Linked DNA regions of Homo sapiens. The protein of the gene in region 2 purifies or fractionates together with the protein of the main gene of each other region. This does not show direct contact. Each region holds a gene or a part of one and is shown on either strand. Other genes may lie near its edges.

Region 1 (3,500 bases), on a different chromosome or scaffold from region 2:
GAAATGTGTTCCTTCTGGTTTTATAATGGTCACTATCTTAACTTTTATACTTTGTGGAAGACTTGAGTATTATTTCTTTCTTGAATATTTTGTTAACTTGCCTAGTAGCACTTAAGATGTTATTTGTTTTTTGTTGGTATTTGGGATGATGGGTTGTATTTGAAAAGCTGTTTTGTTTCTCTAGCTTGTTTTCCAAAACTATAATTTTTCTGAAAATCCCAAAGGCATCCCAGATTAGGCTCACTGCCAATATAAAATGTTTAAAATTTTTTTAAATTAAAAAACTTTTTACATGAACATACACACTTAATTTTTAAAATACCATGTTTTAAAGCAGATAACATTGGATAAATGGATGAAAGTAATATTTAAGAAAGTCTAGAATAAACAGTAATACCTTCATCAAGTATTATTTTATCAGTCTTTAGCAATTTATGTAATTCTGATTCATCTAATTGGGTGTTAGAGGAGTGCTCTGTAGCATTAAACATTAGATTAATTATTCATTTTAATTCTTTTTTAAGAAAGGGTAAACAATTAAATTTCTGATTCTATGATTAAAAAAACTTTTTTAAATTTTTTAGTGAGATAGATGGAACGTTTTCTTCCTCTGGTTGCCTAAATGGAAGTTTTTTAGCTGTTAGGTAAGTGGCAATTCTTTAATATGCTGAAATTTTCAAATTTATTGTCTTAAATAGTATATCAAATTAAAAAATGAAATAATTTTAAATTTTTATTCTATTTTTTTTTTTCTTTTCTGTTTTTTAGCAATGATGATCACTATAGAACAGGTACCAGATTTTCAGGGGTTGATATGAATGCTGCTAGGCTTTTATTCCACAAACTTATACAACCTGATCATCCGCAGATATCTCAGCAGGTCTGTTTTTAAAGTATTATGTTTACAGTATTATCTGTTGATTTTGTTTTCTTTTGTTTTATACGTTTATAGCCTAATTTACTTTGCAGTTTCACAGACTCTTACGATGTGCTTTTAAAATAAGATTTTATTTTAAAGCATTTGTAATTTAGCTGTCAAAGATCTATAAATCTTTTCAGATGTTTGAAGCAGACCCTGAATTACTTAACATTACCACGTTGCTTAAGTTTGTGTATGGTTATAGAGGTAGAGAGTTTAAATTGAGACTTGTACACGTGATTTTTTAAATTCTCCAAGTAATGCTTAGGCATTAATTTTCATTGTGCTCCAAAGTATATTCATTGTAAGACATTGTCTTTCTTTTTTCTTCTTCACCATTTCATATTTGCTGTAGTGCAAAATTTTCCTTTTCTTTCTTTTCTTCCTGCCTTCCTTTTTTTTTTTTTTCTTTGAAAGTGTATTCATTTTAAATGAAGTAGGTTTTACTTTTTGTCAAAATATAGGTGGCAGCTAGTTTGGAAAAGAATCTTATTCCTAAACTGACTAGCTCCTTACCTGATGTTGAAGCATTGAGGTTTTATCTTACTCTACCAGAATGTCCCCTGATGAGTGATTCCAACAATTTCACAACAATAGCAATTCCCTTTGGTACAGCTCTTGTGAACCTAGAAAAGGCACCACTGAAAGTACTTGGTAAGAATTCTAATATTTTTTCTTTTGAAACCTTTTCTCTTTAAATGAAAATGCTTCATAAGTTCTTTTGCCATTTGCAGTTCTGCTGCCCTGCTTATTTGACACTGTCTTAGGCAAAAATGAACCTGTTTTTCCTTTTCTTGCTTTTGTCTAGTCTTTTGATTCTAGTTGTTGGAGTTGTTGAAAGAAAAACATGTTAGATATAGAAGTTCAATTAAACATAACAGCAGAGACAGTATTAGGAAAGTTAAAAACTGTCACCCGTATTCCTTTCCCTCATCGCCTTTAGTATAATCTTGCTATTAAAGAAGTAAAGGAGGAGGAACAATTAAAACTGAACAAACATGGGCTTTAAATCTTCTTGGAACCCTGATATAAGCCCTTTATCTTGTGTTTCCTTCACTTGCTAATTTCATGATATTTGATTTTATTTTTCTGCCTATAGACTAGATTTTATTGCTCATCTGATCTTGCACTTCTATCTCTTACTGTTCTGGTTTTTTGGCATAAAGTTTTCTCACTTTAATTTTTCTAATTGTCTAGATTTTATCTCTATTTCCTGGCCTTTATACTTTTTTTGCTACATTTAACCCAGTGCTTTTCTTTCTAATGGTATTTGTTAGATATGTGGAGCTGAGATATATAGAAGTAATAATGTCAGTACAAGAACTTTAAGGCTGAGGGTAAATGGAGGAAGCAACAAGCAAGGGGTAGAATATGGGAATCTGAGGGAAAAAGAGTCAAGCAGGGACTGAAAAGAGTATTGCTTTCCTGTTGTCAGAAGTTTTTGTATTCTTTCTGCCTGCTTCATAGGATTGAAGTGTTTGTACTTAGTAACTACAAATAGTGAATGTGGGGAAGGACCCATATGTTACACTTTACATTGTTCAGCTTCTGTATTTGATCTTCAGGAGTACCTTGCATTTTAAAGGTAGTGGTTCACAATATTTCAACCATATATTAAATTGAAAGATAAAAGTTAGAAAGATCCTTTAGTATTAGAGCAATACAATTTAAAGGATGTTTTGTTTAAAAATTGAAACTGTAATTTTCAAAACATTTTTTAAAAACTGGTTTTAATATTAGGTATAGTGGTGAGTTTTTTATATAACTTAGGAAACCAAGAATATAAATTCAACAAGACTTTCACACTTTATTTTTGCTTTTGAGAGCTTTTCGGACAATATTGTTTAACTTGGTCGGGGGGAGGTTTATAAACCTTACAAATGTTACATAAGATATTGTGTTATATGCATCTTTCTGGGGTTTTCTCAGGTTTAACAACTACTGTTTCAGAAAAAAAGTCAGTATGATTTTGAAAATTGTGATTTTTTAAAAAATTCATTTTATTTGCATGTTCACTTTTTAATAACAGAAAACTGGTGGTCAGTACTTGAACCTCCACTATTCCTCAAGATAGTAGAACTTTTTAAGGAAGTTGTGGTACATCTTTTGAAACTCTACAAGATCGGTATTCCCCCTTCTGAAAGAAGAATTTTCAACAGTTTTCTTCATACTGCATTAAAGGTTTTAGAAATACTACATAGGGTATGTCCAATCATTCCTTTATTTTCCTCTTTCCCCATTCCTATTAACAGATTGATACTGTTCATTTTAACATTAATCTATTAAAGATTTAGATTGGCAAAAACAATGCATATTATAGAAATTTGGAAAAGTTATCTATACTTTCTCTTAAAAGAAGTAATAAACCTGTCCTTTGGAGCTCTGGTCTTACCTGACTTTGTTAGGCATGTATAGATAACTTATCCATAGTTGGGCAGAACAATAACATACTAATGAGTTAGAATTCTCCTTATATTTCCTTATGAAGAATATAATTTGTTAGTTTGCATTATATGGTTTTTGTTAGCTGTAAGTGGTTATCTTGTGAAAGAGATTGGGTCCTAGTTGTAATTATGAACAT
Region 2 (6,186 bases):
AACACCACCAAAACCAGGTCTACAAATTAAGCAGCAGAAAGACCAGCTGAGAGATATCTTGTGCACCTGAAGGCATTCTAGAAATAGTAAGAACAGCTCCCTGGCTTTTCACTCTGTGTGTGATCATTCAGTATATGGGACTCCCAACTATTTTGACTATTCAAAGATGCCCCAGATTCTAAGACAGGACAGCCGACATTATTGCCTCAGGGCCAAGGCGGTCTTGGGTTTCATTTCTGAAACTCTACTACTTCCTAACTGTAGGAGCTTGGGCAAAGAAATTAACCCCTCCAAACCTCAGCCACGTTATCTGTAAAAGTAATTTCACTTATAAATGGAGGGGTGGAGGTAGCAATTGAAACCAGAATGGCACAATGTGATAATTATTGAAACTCAGTGATAGACACATAGATATTCACCATATTATTATTCTATGTGTTTGAAAATTTGCATAATAAAAAGTAAAAAGAGATGGAAAGTTTAAAAGAGTACCTACCTCATGCAATAATTGTAGAGCTTAAAGAAATGATCACATCTGAATTGCAAGGAATTTTTACAAATCTGAATTATTACCATAAATGTTTAAATATCCCATTTAATCATTCCAACAACCCTACAAAATGTATAGTATTAATCTCCATTTGGCAGATGAGGAAACCAAAGTTTAGATAAATTAAAGAGTAACAAATTCTTCAAATGGCATGGGGCTGAAATGGAATCTGAAACCAGAGTTATCTGACTCCACCAGCACACCGCCTTTATTTTAAGAATAGCTCATTGTGTTCTATTTGGTTGACAATTAGGATGTCGTTTATTCGTCTAAGTCATTGGTTTCCTATCTCTTTTCTCAATAGCAGAAACATGTTTTTCAAATTCAGCCCTACTCAGAACTCTAGTAAGTAAAACTGATAAAAGCTAAACAGCTCTGGCTGAAATGGATTTTGGGGCCCAGCAACCAGCCCACTTGACTCCACAGTGACCCCTGAAGCACCTTGAGGTATATGGAGCATAGTGTGAACCCCAGATTGAAGCCAACAACAACAAAAACAACAACAACAACAACAAATCCCAACCTGAAGAAGTACATGTTAAGAGCAGCCTGATTTGTATAATGCATCTTTCATTTCCCTGTCTCCCATCACATTGGATCCTCATTATCAACTCTGAGGTAGACAAGGCAGCACATATCACCCTCAATTTGCAAATGAGGAAGTAAAGGCCAAATGGAGTTAAGCAGCTGGCCAAAGGTGCACCAGTTCAATTTTCAGCCAAGTGCAGACTGGAAGTCGAGTCTGTCTCCATTAACTCTGTGTGACCTGGCAAAGAGGATGCCATCTACTGGAAATTGCTACTGACCCTTGGTCCACAAAGTGGACAATCAGCTTCTTGGCCATTGAGAGCAGAGCACAGCCCCATGGGCCCTCCTGCCAAGGCCCTGTCCCAGAGCAGATGGCAATGAGCAGGGGAGAAGGGCTCAGTGCCACTGAAGGGCCTGACAGCAGGATTTTAGCTGTAGATGGGCCATTCCTGTCTGAGCCTTGTCATGCTGAGCACAGGGCAGGGAGGCAGGACTAGCCAAAGTGCCTTCCACCTTCATCTGCAGTAAGTAAATGAGCCCACAGAGGGACAGCAGGTAGTGTAGAGCTGGGTGTCATTTACACTTTGCTTTTCTTCTTAGCTCTTGCTTAGGCATCCCTGAAACCCGAGGCAGCTGATAAATGCCTGAATGGCTCCCCAACTCCAGAGCATCTCTGAACTGAGCTGTAGCATGTGTTGGAGCAGGCAACACTTAATTATCGGTTAGTCTTTAATTAGCTCTTAATTATTAACACTTAATCCATCTGTAAAATGGGGACACTAATACCTGCCTCACAGGGACTCTGGGAACATTAATTAAGTTTACAGTCCACTTTGAAGATGCAAAACGTGAAATAAGTAAGTGCTCAACGGCGGTATTAATAACCACAGCAGATTTACTTTCTTTTCCTAATTTCCCTTTTTCCTCTCTGCTCCTTCCTTTCCTTTCGAATATCCATCCTCAACAATATCTGCCCAACTTTGCCCTGATGGAGAAACACTTAGCTCTGTGTTTCCCAGACACAGGATTTCCCATCCCGGAAACGGGCTATTTACAGCCATCTTCCCGCACTTTAATTTTCTATTATGTCCTCTGAATATGTCAGTGCCTTCCCAGTAAATATTTTGATGTGTGCTCTTGCAGCAGCTTCTGTGGAGGCTGAATGGGACAGCTGCTCCCTGTATTAGGGAATTCCAGATGTGATTTAAAACCATCAGACTCATCCATGTGAATGCCTAGCCTTTAGGTGGGAGAGGGGAAGGATCTTCTAGTTGCTTCTGGGGAAAGCCACAAGCCATATAACCCTTAGCCTTAGCTAGGGTGGTTTTTCAAGGACCTCAGATTCACATGCGTTTAGGATGAGAAATGTCTGCTTAACGGGCTGGTGAAGAGGCAGCCTGGAATATAGCCCTAATCTGACTCTTCACCCACAAAACTTCAGAACTTTGGTCAGCTCTTCTATAAAGCTTGGACAAAGGACCATGGAGGGGGCAATATACAGCCTTTAGGGTTTCACCAGCCTCAACAGTGGGCCAGAACATTCCCCCAGAAGGTCAGACTTCATCTCCTCCCTCCTCCCTTGCTGCCAATGGAGTAGGGGGGTACTTACTCTTCTTGAAAGCTGAGCTCATTGCCTCTTAGAGTTCCAACCACAGGGACAGAGAGCTGCTCCATGGAGGTCCAGGGCTGTGAGGCCTCAGGCAGGCCTTGAACTCTCTTCCAGATTTCATGGCAAGTCTTGTCTAGGCTGTCTTGGGGTGTGTCCTGGTGGATCCAGATGTATCTGGGGAATGGGCCCAGGGCGCAGGGGCCCTTGGCCACCAGGGCCGAGGATGAAGGAAGCCCATTCCCGCTGGCCATCCTCCTCCTCTCTTTCTGGAAGCCCCTCTGTCCACCCAGGGCTAGAACACAACCACCACCACCCCTCATTCACCAGAAAGGGAGATGAGGATGGGGCTTGGCAGAAGTGGGTCAGTTCTGTCTGGCTTTCGCTCCAGCAAGGTGGTTAGGTTCAGAGGCCTTCTATTTGTGTGGGAGGGGTGGGTGGAGGACAGCTTTCTTTTGGGGAGGGGAGGGCTTATTTTGATTTGTTTTTATTTGCTCTTTCCTGACTTTTGCCTCCCTCCCCCTCTCCCTTAGAAGAAAATATTTAAAAGTCAACAAAAACCAGTAGCTTAGGAACAGTGGAATGCTGCGGAGCTCAGGAACCAGGCGCCTGGGCGGGCAGAATGACATCTGGGAACAGCTGGAAGGGGAGGGCTGGCTCTCCCCACAGTCCCTGGCACTGCCCCCTTGCGACGCCGCCGTGACAACTTTCGGCGCCTGGGCTCAGCCCATGCTGTCCCGCTAAGCCACGCGGAGGACTGGGTGCGGGCCTGGCACCATTGTAGGCACTCGGGGGGCGGGGCCCCGCAGGAGGCGCTCGCCTGGGCGTTCCCAGGGAGCCCCTCGCAGAGCGAGCGTCAACGGCCCGACTCCCACCCCCGGCCCAGGTCCTGCTTTTCTCTCGCCCTACCCCTCCTGCTCCCGGTCTCCCGCTGCTGCTCTGCTGCCCCCGGAAAGAAGGGATGAGGCGTGTGTGGATGGGCCCACAGCCCTTAGTCCCCGGCCCCCAGCAGACCCCTGCCCCAGCCGCGCCGCGCTGCCAGGCGGGCACCGGGAAGGGCCCAGCGGCTCAAGAGCGCGCTGACTCGGCAAGGCAGGCTGGGCCGGGCGGCTCCCACCAATTTGCCTGCCAGTAGCTCCCACACCCTCGCCGTCGTCGAGCGGGGGAATTCTTTCTGTGGGTTTCAAACGCAACGGCTCGGTGCGCGGGGCGCCCTGGGTTCGGAGCCCAAGACCCGCCGGTGGGGTGGGTGGGGGTGGGGCCCAAAGGACCCCAGAGCGCTTCGGGGGATCAGAAGTCAAAGCCAAACGCGCCGCCGCCCCACTTCGCCGCTCCACACAAATCTCAGCTCCTGCCTGGGGGTCCCCCGGCAACCTCGATTTTAATCCTAACTGCCATTTTATGGGGCGCTTGCCCTGTGCCAAGCGCTGGGCTCACATTCAATCCTATTAAAGCTCGTGAAATTAGTACCACTTTTTATTATCGTTCTACACGGGAGGAAAGCGAATCTCAAAGTCATAAGGGATTGCGTCCAAGGCCCCCTGAGAAAAGGGAAGCTGAGACTCAGACCCCAGCACTCTAGGCCTGATCTAGCCCTTGACCACTGAGACAGCTTCAGTAGGTGGGTAGGAGCAGGAGTAGGAGGTCCGAGGTGCAGGGAGAAGGGCTAAGTTAGCTGTTTGCTGATCAACAGGCCCCTACCCTCACTGAAGCGGCTTCATTCAATTGGGCACTGACACAGTACCTCTGCTGAGGGAGACTTTCTGGTTCCGAGAGTCAGGGGGTTGCTTCTCTAGCAATTCCCCTGAAAAGGAAAAGCAAGAGGGTGGAGACGGAAGAAAGAAGAATGGACACAAATAGAGGAAGATGGCAGTCTATAAATGCAGGGCTGGGTTGAATCCTGACACTCATTTCCGAGCTGTGTGACCTTAAGAACTTTCTGAACTTCTCCCATCCCCATTCATAATTCCCCCAGTACTGATGCAACCCCTCCTCTGTGCCCGATGAGTTGCTGGGCACTGAAGAAGCATAAGGGTGGGCAAAAATGGCATGGTCCCTGCTCTCCTGGAGCCTGTATACTAGCGAGGAGAGATCGATGCAAACCAGCCAAGCGAGTAAAGCAGCAATAATTACAGATGCAATGGGACTCTGATGGAAAATAACTATTAGGTTGGTGCAAAAGTAATTGCGGTTTTTGCCATCACTTGCAATGGCAAAAACCACAATTACTTTTGTACCAACCTAGTAACAAAGTGAGGCACTGGGGAGAAGAGGGGAGGCAATATTCCATGGTGGTCCAGGCCGACTTCTTTGAGGAGAAAAATTTGAGAAGGATGAGAGGAATTCCTTTTCTGTAAAATGGTGTTAATAAATTATGAGGATCATGTTTCTGGCACATAGTAGGCACTCAAAAAATATGTGTTGGATGAATTAATGGTATACTGTATGTAAAGTGCCTGGTATACAGTAGGTGCCCAATACGCAACCTTGCTCTTTACAGAGGGGCTGAGTTCCTGGAAATGTTTACTCTAAATTTTGAAATCTGAGCTTCATTCTCCTTTGATTTTCATTACAAAATTGAAGATGTGTTCCTTTGGGGAAAATTCTGAGGGCCTAGACTGAATAAAATTATAGTTAAGAATGTAGAAAACCTTTTAAAATAGTGTATTTAAAGGAAAAGTGATCATTTCTGATGAAATATTAATAGTTCTGAAAATGTCACTCAGTGTTTGTGCTGCTTGGCATTTGGTTGGCTAACACCTTAAGCTTAGAGCAGAACGCCAACGACCCTGCACTGCCCAGGCCCCAGGATTCTGGAAGTTAGCCAGCTCACTCACTCTTCCTGTTCCCTCTCCCCCTCAGCAGGAGACCAGGCAACGGGGGCTAAATCAGAAAGGACTGCAAAAAAAAAAAAAAAAAAAATCAAATACAGCAGGGATACGGAACAAAGATAGAGCATGTTTTTAGAGTGCACAGACGAGATTTCTAGAAAATTCTGCAAAAATCTTAAGTGATGTACTTAGAAATAGTATAAAGCTATGTCCATATGGTAGCCACTAGCCACATGGGGTTGTTTTAATTTTAACTTTATTTTTATATAAATTAAATGAAAAATTCAGCTCCTCATTTGCATTAGCCACATATTATGTGCTCAGTAGCCACATATGGCTAGTGGCTACCATATTGGACAGCACAGAGAACATTTCTTATCATTAAATACATATTCTCGGGAACCAGAGTCCCTGGGTTCAGATTCTGAGTTCACGTTTTCTGGCAATGTAAGCTTAGGCAAGTTACTCTGTGCCTTGGTGTATTAGTTTGGTAGGGCTACCATAACGAAGTCCACAGACTGTGTGGCTTAAACAACAGAATTTTATTTCCTTGCCATTCTAGAGGTTAGAAGGCCAAGACCAAGATGTTGGCATTGTTAGTTTCACTCTGAAGTCTCTCTCGCTGGCTTGCACTTGGCTGTGTTCTCCCTATGTCCTCACATGGTCTTCCC

Evidence for each region. Proteins that work in one complex are often made in the same cells at the same time.
Region 1: the proteins of C1orf94 (region 2) and HERC4 purify together in Homo sapiens (affinity purification with mass spectrometry; 2 studies listed by BioGRID and IntAct, with this or other methods). This does not show direct contact.

The regions. Positions count from the first base shown.
Region 1 is NC_000010.11:67,988,284-67,991,783, reverse strand, and holds part of HERC4 (probable E3 ubiquitin-protein ligase HERC4), read left to right. Parts: intron 1-584; coding exon 585-644; intron 645-768; coding exon 769-880; intron 881-1,383; coding exon 1,384-1,573; intron 1,574-2,948; coding exon 2,949-3,121; intron 3,122-3,500. UniProt on the Homo sapiens protein: Probable E3 ubiquitin-protein ligase involved in either protein trafficking or in the distribution of cellular structures. Required for spermatozoon maturation and fertility, and for the removal of the cytoplasmic droplet of the spermatozoon.
Region 2 is NC_000001.11:34,174,611-34,180,796, reverse strand, and holds the start of C1orf94 (uncharacterized protein C1orf94), read right to left. Parts: upstream 3,891-6,186; 5' UTR 3,008-3,890; coding exon 2,688-3,007; intron 1-2,687.